2 separate regions of the Homo sapiens genome follow, and region 1 is linked to region 2. A link means that fine-mapping ties the variant in region 2 to the expression of a gene that starts in the linked region. Tissue or cell type: T cells. Region 2 holds a variant in brackets; the other region holds the start of a gene. All regions are shown on one strand. Distances are from middle to middle.

What was found. PIP is the estimated chance that this variant, and not a neighbour inherited with it, causes the effect.
Region 1: SLC7A4 starts here. The variant in region 2 is fine-mapped to the expression of SLC7A4 in T cells (TOPMed, PIP above 0.99).

The regions. Positions count from the first base shown.
Region 1 is chr22:21,028,124-21,036,211 of GRCh38, reverse strand. SLC7A4 (solute carrier family 7 member 4) reads left to right here and starts at 3,651. Exons shown (of 5, transcript NM_004173.3): 1 at 3,651-3,681; 2 at 4,360-5,381; 3 at 5,861-6,501; 4 at 6,768-6,876; 5 at 6,982-7,494. The coding sequence starts at 4,400. The coding sequence ends at 7,157. It overlaps MIR649 (microRNA 649), which reads left to right and starts at 1,940; the gene lies at 1,940-2,036. RefSeq lists an enhancer at 3,595-4,105.
Region 2 is chr22:21,048,542-21,056,629 of GRCh38, reverse strand. LRRC74B (leucine rich repeat containing 74B) reads right to left here. Exons shown (of 10, transcript NM_001291006.2): 4 at 7,473-7,679; 5 at 4,272-4,381; 6 at 3,155-3,270; 7 at 1,454-1,532. Among named protein-coding and RNA genes, the nearest start is that of LRRC74B, 6.6 kb to the right of the region's middle. RefSeq lists enhancers at 505-1,037, 3,243-3,754, 3,755-4,268. The variant C/T (reference allele first, on the strand shown) is at 3,996.

The sequences.
Region 1 (8,088 bases), 20 kb after region 2:
TTGGGGAGGTTGAAGCAGGTGTATCACTTGAGGAAATGAGTTTGAGACTAACCTGGCCAACATGGGAAAACCCCATTTCTACTAAAAATACAAAATTTAGCCTGGTGTGACAGTGCACGCCTGCAGTCCCCAGCCATTCGGGAGGCTGAGACATGAGAATCGTTTGAATCCTGAAGGCAGAGGCTACAGTGAGCCAAGATCACTCCACTTCACTCCAGCCTGGGCGACAGAGTGAGACTCTGTCTCAAAAATAAAAAATAAAATTAAAACGAGCTATTCAGCCATGAAAAGTCATAGAGGAATCTCAAATGCATATTATTAAGGGAAAGAAGCCTGAAAAGGCAATATACTCTATAATCCCAACTATATAAGATTCTGCAAAAGTAAGACTAGACTATGGAGACAGGAAAAAGATCGGTGGTTGCCAGGTGTTAGCAGGGAGGGACAGGCAGAGCACAGAGGGTTTTTAGGGCAATGAAACTACTGTGTGTGATACAATAATGGTGTGTCTATGTGTCATTACACATTTGTCCAAACCCATAGAATGTACAACCGGAAGAATGAACCCTAATGTAAACTATAGACCTTGGGTGATAATGATGTGTCAATGTAGGTTAATCGATTGTAACAAATATGCCCCTTTGGTGCTGGATGTCAGTAGTGGGAGAGGGGGCTACACGTGTGTGGGAGCAGAAGTATATGGGAACTGTACTTTCTGCTCAATATTGCTGTGAACATAAAACTGCTCTGAAAACTCAACTTTTTTTTTTTTTAGATACAGGGTCTTGCTATGTTGCCCAGGCTGGAGTGAAGAGGCTATTCACAGGTATGATCAAGCTCACTGCAGCCTTGAGCCTCCTAGGCTCAAGCCATCCTCCCAACTCAGCCTTCTGAGTAACTGAGACTACAGGCGTGTACCACCATTCCCAGCTAATAAAGTCTATTTTTAAAAAATCACTTGACGATAAATGTAACTGTTTATTTGTGGACTGTCAATTCTATTCCGTTCATCTATGTGTCTACTCTTATGTCACCACCACAATCTTGATTACAGTCATTTTGCAATCAGTTTAGAAATCAGGAATTGTAAGTCCTCCAAAACTTTTTCAAAAGTATTTTGACTATTCTGGATCCCTTGCATTTCCACATGAATTTTGATGATTTTTGCAAAACAGGTAGTTGGGATTTCAATAGGAATTGCACTCAATCTATGCAACCCCTGAATCTGTAGACCAGTTTGGGGAATACTGCCATTTTATATTTAAAGTCTTACAGTCTATGAACATGGGATGTCTTTCCATTTATTTATGTTGCCTTTAATTTCTTTCTTTACTTTTTTCTTTTTTTTTTGAGACAGGGTCTGACTATCACCCAAGCTGGAGTGCAGTGGCACAAACATGCCTCACTGCAACCTCAACCTCCCAGGCTCAAGAAATCCTTCCACCTCAACACCACCCCCGACTCCCAGTAGCTGAGACCACAGGCACATGCCACCATGCCCATATAATTTTTTTACCTTTCCGTAGAGGTGAGGTCTCCCTATGTTACCCAGGCAAAATACCCAAGTATTTTGGCTATTCTGGATCCCTTGCATTTCCATATGAATTTTTTGTTTTTTGTTTTTTATTTTTTTTTGAGACAGAGTCTTGCTCTGTCACCCACGCTGGAGTGCAATGGCGCCATCTCAGCTCATTGCAACCTCTGCCTCCCGGGTTCAAGCGATTCTCCTGCCTCAGCCTCCCAAGTAGCTGCGATTACAGGCACCCACCACTTATTTTAATTTATTTATTTAGTAGTTTTGGAGACAGGGTCTTGCTTTGCCACCTAGGCTGAAGTGCAGTGACAGGATCATAGCTCACTGCAGCCTCAGACTCCTGGGTTCAAGTGATCCTCTCACCTCAGCCTCCCAAAGTGATGGGATTACCGGTGTGAGCCACTGGGCCTAGCCAAATACTGTATTTTTGATCGACATTTGGTTGAAAAATATCTATGTATTAGTAAACCTGTGTTGTTCAAGAGTCCACTGTGTTTTGCTGGGGATTTCTACATCTATATTCATAAGGGATTTTGGTCTGTGGTTTTCTTTTCTTGTGATGTCTTTGTTGAGTTTAGTGTCAGGGTAATCCTGGCCTTGCAGAATGAGTTAGAAAGTTTTTGTTTCCTGGTGGTTTGTCTTCACTGCATCACTGTGGGGTTGCTCTGTGTAGCTGTCTCACTCAGTAGTGAGGGAAATATCTCTGGAAATGTACAATTTACTGCATCAGCCCTGCTTAGTCTCACATATCCGTTGTATGTTGGTGCCTGTGGCAGAGGGTGTGGTGTCACACCTTCTCCAGGTAGATAAAAAGTCAACACTCCAAAACACTGGACACCAGCAATAAGGCAGTCATTGGTAAGGCCTTTGGGGAGCTCCCATTACAAATCTGCCTAACCCTCTGGCCTGAAGTGCCTAGACTTTTGTGGTGACATTTCAGGACAAGGGACGTCTGCTCAGGCAACACAGGGATGGGGTAAGGAAGCTACCATCCCACCGGAAGTGGGAGCCATCTGAGAAGTTCCTCAAGACAATACCAGCCAAATATTAGAAGGTATTGGCATTCTGGCCGAGGCAGAATGTTCCAAATTGGCACCATCTTGTCTGGGAGTCCATCATCCTGTCACCAGCCCAATAGGCTGGATAGGCTGCAGATGCTCCTAAGATTCCATTCCACAAACCACATGTAAGCCTGAACACATGTCTAGTATAGCGTTCTGGGGAGGCCAGGAGCCATGGTTCATGAATGTAATCACAGCCTTTTGGGAGGCCAAGAGTTCGAGACCAGCCCGGGCAGCATAGTGAGACCCAGTCTCTAAAAAAATTAAAATTAAAAAATTAGCCAGGTGTATTGTTGCATAGCTGCCTGCCTGGGGCGTGGGGCACTGGAATGCAGTACTCAGGACACAGTGGCTGTCGCTGATAAACACAAGTGGGGATCTGCTATTGGGGTCCCATAGGGCCCTCCCGGCCTGCCAGAGGTGCCTAGGCTAGGAAGGGCTGCCACTGGGGTCTGAGGAGCTCTACTCCCCCACAGGAGGGCTGCAGGCTGGTCCCAGAAGCTGCTTGCTTCCTTGCAGGACGTGGTAGCTGCAGGCTCAAAACAGCCAGAATGCATTCCCTCAATTCGCAGAACTCTCTCAAAAGGCTGCAGTCTCTTCCATTGTAAGAGTAGAGGTCAGGGACCGCCCCAGGCCACTCTGCCAGACCCATGTCTTCATCTAACTCACTGTGCCTGAAGCTCACATGACGGTGCTGTGGGGCCTGTCTGGGGCCCAGCTGGGTGGGGTTCATGTACTGGGGTGAGGGATCAAGAAGGGTGTCCGCTGCAGTAGAAAGAAGGTGGGCTGCGGACTTTCAGACGTGGCCCTTAACCTCCCCGAACTGACCTAGGCTAGTCAGTCAGCCGGCGGTCTGACCTTCTCCATCTGTGACTGAGTCACAGTCACAGGGCTTCCCTAGACCCCGGTGAGCTCCGGTAACGACCTTGCGAGGTCGGGCAGAGTGGGCAGGGTGAAATATCTGGGTGTGTGGCAGCGGGTGGGGCCGCGCGGGGGGCCTGGGATGGGGGCGGGCCCTGCGCTCGGCGCCGGCGAACTGGGCGGGCTCAGTGCTCAGAGCGGAGGCAGCGGCTGCGGCAGCAGCAGGTGGGTTGCAGCAGATCCTGCGGGGACGGGGACTGGGACGGGCTCAGGCCCAAGAACAGGCGAAGGCGCAGGTGTCCGGGGACGGGGGCGCGGCGGAGCAGGCTCTAGCAGCAGCGGCGTGTCGGACATGGGGAGGTGTGCGGGCCCAGGGCGCCCCTGCATTCCGCCTGGCGCGCGGATACCCCAGCCTGGCCACGGGTGCAGGGGCGGGGGTGTATGTAGCCGCCACTGTCTGTCTGTGGCCAGGTGGCTGCCTGGGCCACACCCGCCCCGACGCAGAGCCGCGGCTCCTGTTCCGGGTCCGGCTCGACTCTGGGGAAGCCTCGGTTTCACCTGGCTCTGGGACCCCACCACTGAGCCGTTCCCAGCCTCTCACCCTGCTCCCCCTGGAGCTGCTCCCTCCCCACCCCTCAGGGCCACCGAGCGGGTGAGCAGGTGGGGCCTCACCAGGCCTCCTTTGCTGCCTGGGATGCAGACAGGGCCTCCAGGCTTCCTGTGACCTCCTGCCCACAGGTTCTGACACCTGCCCCATTCCAGCTCTCCAGCAGGCCCCTGGTGAGGGTGTCCAGGTCCCCAGGTCAGGGACAGAGAGAGGACTGGGGGTGGTCAGACCAGGAGGGATGGAAGGCTGGTCAGGCCCCGGCTACGCATCCTGTCATTCCCCTCTGGCCCTAGCAGGTTCCAGTAGCTGGCTCGGTGCTCTTCTCGGCCACCTGCCATGGCCCGGGGGCTGCCCACCATTGCTAGCCTGGCACGCTTATGCCAGAAGCTGAACCGCCTGAAGCCGCTGGAGGACTCCACCATGGAGACGTCACTGCGGCGCTGCCTGTCCACGCTGGACCTGACTCTTCTGGGCGTGGGTGGCATGGTGGGCTCGGGTCTCTACGTGCTCACAGGTGCCGTGGCCAAGGAGGTGGCTGGCCCTGCTGTGCTCTTGTCCTTCGGTGTGGCCGCTGTGGCCTCCCTGCTGGCAGCCCTATGCTATGCAGAATTTGGGGCACGTGTGCCACGCACGGGCTCTGCCTACCTGTTCACCTACGTATCCATGGGCGAGCTGTGGGCCTTCCTCATCGGCTGGAATGTTCTCCTCGAATACATCATCGGTGGCGCCGCCGTGGCCCGTGCCTGGAGTGGCTACCTGGACTCTATGTTCAGCCACAGCATCCGCAACTTCACTGAGACCCACGTGGGTTCTTGGCAGGTGCCCCTCCTGGGCCACTACCCGGACTTCCTGGCTGCTGGCATCATCCTCCTGGCCTCTGCCTTTGTCTCCTGTGGAGCCCGCGTGTCCTCCTGGCTCAATCACACCTTCTCGGCCATCAGCCTGCTTGTCATTCTCTTCATTGTCATCCTGGGCTTCATCCTGGCCCAGCCTCACAACTGGAGCGCTGACGAAGGCGGCTTTGCACCCTTCGGCTTCTCCGGCGTCATGGCCGGCACTGCCTCCTGCTTCTATGCTTTCGTGGGCTTCGACGTCATTGCCGCCTCCAGTGAGGAGGCCCAGAACCCACGGCGGTCTGTGCCTCTGGCCATCGCCATCTCGCTTGCCATTGCAGCTGGTGCCTACATCCTTGTCTCCACCGTGCTAACCCTCATGGTGCCCTGGCACAGCCTGGACCCCGACTCAGCGCTTGCAGATGCCTTCTACCAGCGGGGCTACAGGTGGGCTGGCTTCATCGTGGCAGCTGGCTCCATCTGCGGTGAGAGACTCTTCCTGGGCAGGGTGGCAGGGAAAAGAGCAAGGGGGACCTTGTCCTCAGATTCTTGGGGAATGCACCTTCAACTGGGGCTGTTTTACTAGTTGCATAATGGGGCAAGGAAAGTGCTAATTATTAGAAACTCTTCACTTCAAAAAAAGTTTCTTCAGAAACTTTGGAAGGGACCGCCCCACACATGGTCCATAGCATATTAGTTCTGGGCATGTCCTTATAGATTATTTCCTAGGCAGAGGGACTCAGCCCTCATCCGATGCTCCAGTGGGCCTGTGACCTAACCCAGATGTCCTGTTCTTGGGCAAAGCGCTGACAATCTATTACTCCTACACAAACTCATGCTTACTCTGAGAGCCCAGACAAGCTCATGCCCTTGTTCCCAAGGAGCCACCCATGCACCGACCCCCAGCAGAGGCCCCTGGTGGGCTTCTCCGCCATGCTGACCCTCCCCACTCTCTCTGCTACAGCCATGAACACCGTCCTGCTCAGCCTCCTCTTCTCCCTGCCACGCATTGTCTATGCCATGGCCGCCGATGGGCTCTTCTTCCAGGTGTTTGCCCATGTGCACCCCCGGACACAGGTGCCTGTGGCGGGCACCCTGGCGTTCGGGCTCCTCACGGCCTTCCTGGCACTGCTGCTGGACCTGGAGTCGCTGGTTCAGTTCCTGTCCCTTGGCACACTCCTGGCCTACACATTCGTGGCCACCAGTATCATTGTGCTGCGCTTCCAGAAGTCTTCCCCGCCCAGCTCCCCAGGCCCAGCCAGCCCTGGCCCCCTGACCAAGCAGCAGAGCTCCTTCTCAGACCACCTACAGCTGGTGGGCACTGTACACGCCTCCGTCCCTGAGCCAGGGGAGCTGAAGCCAGCCCTGAGGCCCTACCTGGGCTTCTTGGATGGGTACAGCCCTGGAGCAGTGGTGACTTGGGCGCTTGGCGTTATGTTGGCCTCAGCCATCACCATAGGCTGCGTGCTTGTCTTTGGGAACTCGACCCTGCACCTCCCACACTGGGGTTACATCCTGCTGCTCCTGCTCACCAGTGTCATGTTTCTGCTCAGCCTCCTTGTCCTGGGGGCTCACCAGCAACAGTATCGGGAAGACTTATTTCAGGTACCTCCCCTAGCCAACACCCACTCACACTCGGCCCAGGCAGCTGCCTCCCCTTCCCCCACTACCATCCCAGAATGAACAAGTCTCACGGGGCTGGGGAGGACCACACACCCATCCCGCACCCCTTTCTGCATGGTGAGTGAGCACATGTCTCCACAATCTCCCGTGAGGAACAAAGGCTCTATGGATTCCCGAGAAAGTGAGCCCTGGGCTGGCAGATCTTTCCTGCAGCCCGGCCCAGCCCTGCCCTGCCTCTGCCTCCTCAGATCCCCATGGTTCCCCTGATTCCAGCCCTGAGCATCGTCCTCAACATCTGCCTCATGCTGAAACTTAGCTATCTGACCTGGGTGCGCTTCTCCATCTGGCTGCTGATGGGTGAGTGGGGGCCAGGCTGGGACCGGGGTCAGGAGGAGGGCAAAGAGGACAGGAAGGGCTGGAACCTGTACCTCAGGCTCATGCCCTGCCTCCTGCCCTGTCTAGGACTTGCAGTGTATTTCGGCTATGGCATCCGGCATAGCAAGGAGAACCAGCGGGAGCTGCCAGGGCTGAACTCCACACACTACGTGGTATTCCCCAGGGGCAGCCTGGAGGAGACAGTGCAGGCTATGCAGCCCCCCAGCCAGGCACCAGCACAGGACCCTGGCCATATGGAGTAGCTGATCAGCCCACACTTGCCCCGCCCTCCCACACCTGCTTGGGAGGCCAGAGAGGCCAGACAAGCCGAGAGCCCCTTCTGTTGTGGGCAGCCTGGGTTTGCAGGCCTGCACAGGCTGGGGAGTCCTCAGGACCTTAGGACCTTCATCCAGGGGCTGGGCTTCGGGTCTTCAGGAGTGGGCCTTGGCTGGTGCTGGTGCCATGGACTCTGCCCAGAGCCTTCTTGTTTATGATCAGCTCCAGCTACCTGGGCAGTTGTGGTGGGGTGGATGGGAAGGCCCACAGCCCAAGGGATCCATAATAATAATTGCTTGGCCAGCCATGTGGCCTGCTGGCGTATCCACTGTGGCATTCTTTGTGGCACCAAGTCTTCACCTGCCCCAGGGAACCAGGCAATTGTCTCCAATCCACATCAAAGATGCTGGGGCTCTCTAAAGAGTAGGTGCCAGTCCTGGGACCACCCTGAGTCAGGGACACAGGTGGGCCTGGATCCAGGTGCCCAGTGAAGAGGGGAGCCACACACACCAGGCAAGGAGGGTTCCATGACAGGCATGGGGTCAGGCTCCCCACGTCTGCTAGGTGGCAGATCCAGGGAGCAGAGCTTGGGCCCCAAGGAGGCTGCCTAGAAAGGGCAGCAGGGTTCTGAGCATGGCATGCACCTGAGGCCTGCCTGGCACAGGCACCCCCACGGGGACACATGCATCCCTGCAGGCACTACCCTGGGGTGCATGCCTGTGCGCAGACTGAGGCGACAGCTGTTTCTGAGCTCGGGCCCAGGCTGCAGCTCTCTTGCTGTCTTTGCCCACTCTTCAAGGGCTTTGAGGTGAAAAGAGTGTGGCCCTCATGCTCCTACATGGGTGCACAAGTGCCCAGGCCTGTTCCAGTTACCTTCTAGCCCACCTGGTAGCTGCAGGGCCTCAGTCTTCAGGGGTA
Region 2 (8,088 bases):
GTGTGTGTGTGTGTGTGTGTGTGTGTGTGTGTGCTCCAAGCTTGGGGTGAGAGCACTGAACTTGGAAGAGAGGGGCTGGCAGAGCCCAGATCCCCCATGACATGCTATGTTACTTTTTTTTTTTTTTTGAGACAGAGTCTTGCTCTGTCATCCAGACTGGAGTGCAGTGGTGAGATCTCAGCTCACTGCAACCTTCACCTCCTGGGTTCAAAGGATCCTCCTGCCTCAGCCTCCAGAGTAGCTGGGATTATAGGTGTGCATCACCACATCTGGCTCATCTTTTTGTTTTCAGTAGAGACAGGGTTTCACCATGTTGGTCAGTCTGGGCTCAAACTCCTGACCTCAAGCGATCTGCCTGCCTCAGCCTCCCGAAGTGCTGGGATTATTGGCGTGAGCCACCACACCTAGCTCCGCATGACATGATGCACTCAAAGCTTGGGTTTATCCAGAGGGGATAAAACTCCAACAGTTTTAAAGCAGGGCATGTTTCTGGTCCTGGGTAGCAGCTGGGAAGAAAGAACCGCAGCCAGGAATCCCGCAAGTTCACAGAAGCTAAGAGAGGAAGTCAGAAGAGGGAGGAGTCAGCAGGGTGAGCCCCTGCAGAAGGTGGGAGGGAGGGTGTGGAAAAGGGAGGGGCAGGCAGGCTCTGGGCCCCAGCTGGTGACTTGGGAAGAAGGAAGAAGGAGCCCCCCACCAGGAGGTGGCCCTTAGAGGGGGGTATGCGTTCAGGTTGGACTCTCACATTCCCACGTGTCTTTGGGACATTTAGAGGACTGTCTACGAGGTGACTCGAAACGCAGGTCTATGCTTCAGAGAGGTCCAGGTTCCTGTGAGGCAGGAAGCAGGGGAGGAGAGCTATGGGAGAAGCCCAGTAAGGCTAGGGTGGGGAGCTGAGGGCCGACAGAGCTGGATGTCCATACCCAGCTGGCAATACTGTCCCCCAGCACGTACCTGCTGTGGGCACAGTGGTCCCCTGGGGACCTGCTCCCGGCTTGCCTCCCTCCTGTGTCTGTCTTCTGCTCCCTGTCCTGCTCAGCACTCCCTCCCCACCTGCAAACCCAGGGGAAGGAACCCCAGCTGGGAACACCAGGCCTCAGGTGGGCCTGAGCAGTGGCCAACAGAACACCTGGGTGGGGCCTGGGTCTCAGCAAGGCCAGAGGAAAGGCAGGGGAGAAGATGAGGGAGACACAAGGGGTGCCCAGCCACCTTCAGCAGAGCAGCACCCCAGCCCACAGAGGAGGAAGGGCAGCAAGAAGATGTGGGAGAGAGGCTGGGAGGGATGAAGGGGAGAAGAGGAGGGCCAGGCCCCAGATTCAGGGTGAGTGGCAAGGGAGTGAGCCAGCCTGTGTGCACCTGCCTGCTGCCCCTGGGTGGGGGCTGTGGGGGAGGGATCTGTGTGGACTGTTACAGGGCAGGTCTGTGCTGGTGTCTCAGTCATCAGGCTAGCACTCACTACAAGAATCCTCAGCGTCTGGTTGACCCGGAGGCCCAGGCCCAGGCTCAGGGCTCCCATCGCAGAGATGCGGTTGTTACTGCAACAAAAACAACAGGCACATGCATTGTGCAACCTTCCAAGCAGCGGTGCAGAGCCCACTGCCCCAGGGTGCCCACTGGAGCTGCCATTGCAGCCACCAGGTTGGGTCTCTTGTTCCCTCCACTCACACCCCAGGAACCCTGGACAGATCAACAGGTAAAAGGTGGAGATGACACCGTTCAGAGGAATCACACGGCAAACACACCTAAAGCGTCCCTGTCCTGGTGGACACCAGCTGCCGCTCCTCTGAGCTCTGCAAGTGCTCCCACATATTCTGCCCCAGCTGACACCTCATGCCTATCACCATTACAACGCCTGTTCCAGAAAATCACCTAGCTTATGTTCAAGGCCTCTCCTCCTCCTGCCGTTCCCAAACTCCAGTCCTCAGCACCGCCCTGGACCACTTTGTCTCCGGAGTCAGTCCCGCTTCTCTCTGACTTCTCAGACCCCAGCTCTGGCTGCACCTCCGTATTCAGCCTCCGCGGCTGCCTCCAGTCTTAGCTCCTCCCATGGGGAGGAAAGCTGGGCAGGATTGAGTGGGGCCTTCTTGCCCACAGGGAGCTGCCCCTGGGGAGGGTCTCAGCCACAGCAGCCCATGACCTCCCTGGCCTCTGGCCCGTGACCTCCCTGGCATCCGCCTCTTTTCTTCCCTCTGGGCTTGTGCCTCCTGGCTAGGCTGGGACGCTGCCTGGCCTGGAGGAGCCCCTCACACAGGGCATGCTCCAGTAGCCACATGCTGAGCAAAACAGGCACTGGGGCCCACTTGTCAGGGTCCTGCCTTGCCCCACCCAGACTAGGCTCGTTTTACTCGCTCTGTTGCAATGCAGCCTGAAATCCTGAATCCTCGGCTCAAGCAATCTTCCTGCCTCAGCCTCCCAAGTACCAGGAATGATAGGTGTATGCCACCGGAAATGGACAATTTTTAGATTTCGCATAGAGATGGAGTCATGCTATATTGCCTAGCCTGGTCTCAAAATCCTGTCCTTAATGGATCCTCCCGCCTCAGCCTTCCTAGGTGCTAAGATTACAGTTGTGAGCCACAGAACCTGGCCCTGGCTCGTCTTCTGCAAGGGAGGAAAGCTTGCATGGAGCACCCACCATGCACCAGGCTCTGCCGGAGATGCTTTATACACCGTGTGCAATTCGCAGCCATCCGCCTGTGCTATAGGAATCACAGGTCTCTATGTAACAACGATGAACTCCCCATGACTGTAATTCCAGCACTTTGGGAGGCTGAGGCAGGAAGACTGCTTCAGCCCAAGAGTTCAAGGCCAGCAGGAGACTGTCTCTACAAAAAAGAAAAAATTAGCCAGGCTTGGTGACATACTCCTGTAGTCCCAGCTACTTGGGAGGCTGAGGTGGTGGGATTGCTTGAGCTGGGAAGGCCAAGGCTGCAGTGGGCCATGATCACAGCACTGCACTCTACCCTGGGCAATAAAGCAAGATGCTGTTTTAAATAAATAAATAAAATTATAAACTCCAGTGATAAGGATGACAGAGCTGCTCTGGGATTGTGGCTCAAGCCCCATCACGGGAATCCCCATCACGGGTAGACTGTGTGCTTCAGCAGCAAGATCATGGAGCCCATGATTCCTGGGGTGTCCCCCCGGGGATCCTCACCTCATGTTGAGTTCCTCCAACACGTTGTTGGCCTTCAGAGCCTCACCCACCGCAGAGGCTCCAGGATCCCCAAAGCCATTGTATGAGATGTCTAGAACTTTAAGGAAGATGTTTGCCTAGAATACCAAAGAGTGAAGTCATGGGACCCCATCTGACAGTGGAGCAAGCCAGGGTGCCACAGCCTCAGAGACCAGGAGCCCTGAGGTGCAAAGATAAGAGATAAAGGGCAGAAGGGGAGAGGCTCCAAGGAAGGGTCAGGAAAGTGCCATGCAGACCCCCTGGTGGCTGCAGCTTGGATGATGGTGGTCAACAGAGCCCAGTGGCCCAGAGCACAACAGGAAAGGACCGGTGTAGACGTGAATGGCCCTCAGAGAGACTGGGAGGGGCGTGTGCAGAGCAGCAGCAGGCCCCAGAAACATTGATCGGACTCCACACCCACTTAATGGCTCTAGAGGGCAGGGATCCCAAGATCCAGTGAACAGCTGTTGGATGAAACCTGTCCAGCGTACTGTGATGGGGAGAAGGGTAGGTGCTCTGGCAAGACAGAGTGTGACATGCCATCTTGTGGGGCAGGACCCCAAGGTCAGCCCCTGCATCAGGGCAAGACAGCAGCTGCCATGGCCTGAGGAGGGCCCCACAGGGTATCTGGCACTGGGGACATTGCAGACACCTTGTACCACCCTAGCACCAGCTTGAGCCACCCATTCCCGAGCCCTATGAACCACAACATGGAAGGGAACAGGTGGGTGTTTGAGAGGCTGTGCTGGCATCCAAGGGTGCAAGGTGTCATCTCAGGAAACCACCTGCGTATGCCCAACAGTGAGCATGTGTCACCAGACTG[C/T]ACAGATGTCCCTTCCCAGCTGGGTGTCTATGGTGTCTGGGGAAGGTGCAAGATATTCAACAGTGACCCTTCAGGAAAGTATGTGACGGTGAGCACAGTGTATTGTGGTCACTAAGTGAAGCCAGGAAAATTAAAATCACCTAAAGAAACAGTCTTTAAGCTGTGCTTAAAAGATCCAAGGTTCATTTCCGAGGAGCTGCAGAGACAGGGAGGTGGCCCCTGGGAGACAGGCCCCAGCAGACAGGCTGTAGGGCCGACTAGGTGGGGGCTTCATACCTCCAGTCCCCTGGCAAATGCCACAGCTCCTGGGCCCCGGAGGTGATTCCAGCTCACGTTAAGCTCGGTGAGTCCTGTGTTTTCTGCCAGGGCTGGTCCAAGTGTCTCCCCTTCAGAAACACCAAGAGAGACCTTCTGACTCACTCTCTTCACTCCTTCAAAAGATCACACTGATGCCCACTGCGTGCCGAGCCTCTGCTGGGCAGGAGGGTCACAGACATGAAACTAATGTGGGCCTGCGGTGCCCTTAAGGAACTCACATTTCATGGGGGAGATACAAATGCAAATGTATGGGATGTGAGCTATTCATTTAGACTAAAAGGGGGAGGCGTGAGAACAGAGTGGTGGCCAGCCTGTCTTGGGGGAAGTCAGGAAAGAGGACAGAGGAGATAACTCAGGACTGAGGAATTCCCCAGGGGTGTGTGCATGCACAGTGGGGAGGAGACACAGGAAACTGCAAATGGCAGGGGCACCTGTGGAAATGCACACAGGCTTATGCACAGTGGGGAGGAGACACAGGAAACTGCAAATGGCAGAGGCACCTGTGGAAATGCACGCAGGCTTGGAGCTGGGCCTGGGGAGGGGGAAGCCAGTGAGGTGAGGAAGGAGTAATGGGCACTTGAGAGATGCTGAGGGGCCTTGTGTGCCAAGCCAAGGGGCTTAGGCAGCACATACAAGTGGCAAGGAGTCAGGGAGGGCCTTAGGAAGTGATGAGGCTGGATTAGCATTTCAGCAAGTGGCAGGTGTCCAGGATAGACTGGGCTGGGTGGGGGCAGAGGCAAGAGGCTGGGGGACCAGATGGAAGGCTGGTGCCATAGGCTAGGCAAGAGGCAACAGGGCTGGCACAGCTGTGGTAGAGAGGAGATGGGGGTGGTAGAGAAAGGAAGGTGAAAGCCAGGCAGTGGTGTGAGCCTGTGGTCCCAGCGACTCAGGAGGCTGAGGCAGAAGGATTTCTTGGCGCCAGGAGTTCAAGACCAGCCTGGGCAAAATAGCGAGACCTAGAGATGAAGGCGGAGCAACATGGCCGAACAGAACCCTCCAGCGGTCATCCTACAACCCTCACAGGAACACCAAAGCGAACATTTATACACACAAGAAAGCGCCTGCAGAAGAGCCAGAAACCAGCTGCACATCACAGTACCTGCTTTTAACATCATAACAGGGAAACAGGCACTAAAGAGGAAAGAAAGTATTTTTTGTTGTTGTTAAGACACGGTCTCACCCTGTTGCCCAACCCGGAGTGCAGTGGGACAATCACGGCTCACTGCAGCCTTGACATCTTGGGCTCAAGCAATTCTCCCACCTCAGCCTCCTGACTGAGACTACAGGCACATGTCACCACTTGGGGCTAATTTTTTTTTTTTTTTTTTTTTTTTTTGAGACGGAGTCTCGCTCTGTTGCCCGGGGCTAATTTTTTTAATCATTTGTTGTCACCACTGGGGCTCCCTATGTTGCCCAGTTTGGTTTCTAACTCCTGGCCTCAAGCAATCTTCGCCCCTCAGCCTCCCGAAGTGGTGTTGGCATTACAGATAGGCACAGTGCCTTGCCAAGTCTCACTTTTTTTTTTTTTTTTTTTTTTTTGAGACAGAGTCTCGCTCTTTCGCCCAGGCCGGACTGCAGTGGTGCTATCTCGGCTCACTGCAAGCTCCGCCTCCTGGGTTCATGCCATTCTCCTGCCTCAGCCTCCCATGTAGCTGGGACTACAGGCGCCTGCCACCACACTCGGCTAATTTTTTGTATTTTTAGTAGAGACGGCATTTCACCGTGTTATCCAGGATGGTCTCGATCTCCTGACCTCATGATCCACCTGCCTTGGCCTCCCAAAGTGCTGGGATTACAGGCGTGAGCCACCGGGCCCGGCCACCTCACTTAATTTCACTGACTTCTTGCAATAATTTTCTTAGAAGGCAAACTGGTTCTCTGGCAGTTATATGCCAGAGGCAATTCTCACAGGCCAAGGCTGATGTCACCCCACTTGCTCTAAGCAGCTGGAGACAGAGGAGTGCTTCTGAAAAACAATTCTCGGCCAGGCGCGGTGGCCCACACCTGTAATCGCAGCACTTTGGGAGGCCAAGGCGGGCGGATCACAAGGTCAGGAGTTCGAGACCAGCCTGACCAACACGGTGAAACCCCATCTCTACTAAAAATAGAAAAATTAGCCAGGCCTTGTCGCACGCACCTGTAATCCCAGCTACTCAGGAGGCTGAGGCAGGAGAATTGCTTGGACCTGGGAGGCAGAGGCTGCAGTGAGCAGAGATCACACCATTGCACTCCAGCCTGGGTGACAGAGCGAGACTCTGTCTCAAAAAATAAAAAATAAAAAGACGATTCTCCTGGGGCAACCATTAAAATACAGATTCACCAGCATTCCCCTAAGAGTTTGGTTCAGCAGGTCCAGGGTCAGCATCTGCATGCCTAACCCAGGGTCTCAGGTGATCCTTACCATTATTGGACCATTTGAGGAGAGGCAGGTAGAAGTGCAAATTCCTGGCAAAGCAGACAGCTCCTGAATATGCTCAGGGGCATGACAGTGATGAGATCAAGGAATCCCAATCACATCCGCTACCTCACTTGAAACAAAATCTTCACCGTTTTTGCCACGGCCTACAGCCCTGCAGCCCCCTCTGCCCTCTCCACCCCACAGCCTGGCCACGCTTCCCTGGCTCCCTAGCCTAGGCACACTGCTGTCCGCCAGTCTGGGAAACAGGCCCGCATGCTCACTATTCCTCTGCTTGCAATGCTCTCCCTCTGATCTTGCCATGGCTGACTCCTTCCCACCCTGCACATTTCAGCTTAAATGTCACCTCACAGAGGCCTCCCCAGCCACCTCTTTAAAGTAGGGGGTCCCTGTTCTTCTCTAGAATCATAAACTATTTGTTTCTTTTGTAGCACCAATAATTACTCAGAATGATGTTGTTAACATTGTCCCTTGAGGTCAGGAACTTGGTTTTGTTCAAGGTGGATCCCTGGTGGCTAAGTCAGTGCCCAGCACATACAGCAGCGCGCAATGAGATATTTGTGGAAGGAATGAAGAGTTCCGTGTGGCTGGAGTGGAAGAGGAGTGGGGCAAGGTGGGGTGTGGGGAGCAGGAACCAGAGCACATGCTCCCTGGCGATGTGCAGCGCGGTCCTGCCAACCCCCACCCATCCCTGCCCCAGGAAGCTGAGCTTTCATGGCCATGGTGCCCTGCGCAGGCGTTACCTGCTTGGTCATTCAGCTGGTTGTAGCTCAGGTCCAGGGACTTCAGGTCTGTGTGGGCCAGCAGGAGTTCGGCAAGGTGCTGGGCCGCCTGCTCCTCCAGGCCATTCCCTGACAGCTGCATCTTCCGCATGGCCTGGTTCACTGTGAGGGCGGCACAGAGGGCCTGGGCTCCTGCCACTCCCAGCTGGTTCTCCGACAGGTCCACATCTGGGGGACAGAACCACTCCTCGGCCAGTGGGATGCAAAGCCAGGCACTCCCCTACTTCTGCCATCCCCCAAACCTCCAGGTCTGAGGCTGAGGAAGGGGACTTACAGGTTAACTGTCCTGGGGTTGCATGGTGGCTCTGGCTCCCAATGGCTGGGTCCCCTCTGCCCCTGACCTCCCCCTCCCTGTGTGCCCACCAGCTTCTGTGTCAAGTGGTTAAAACCGCCTACCTCCTGGTACTGTAGAGACTGCTGTGGTGGGGGGCAGCTATACCGTCGATGGCTGCATCTGGCAGTGATATCACCACCCACTTCAGAAGCCCTCACAGCCCCGTTGCCAGGATTGGCAATAATAGCCCAAGTGGCCATGCATGGAGCACGTACATGGGTCACACACTCTTCTGACCACTTC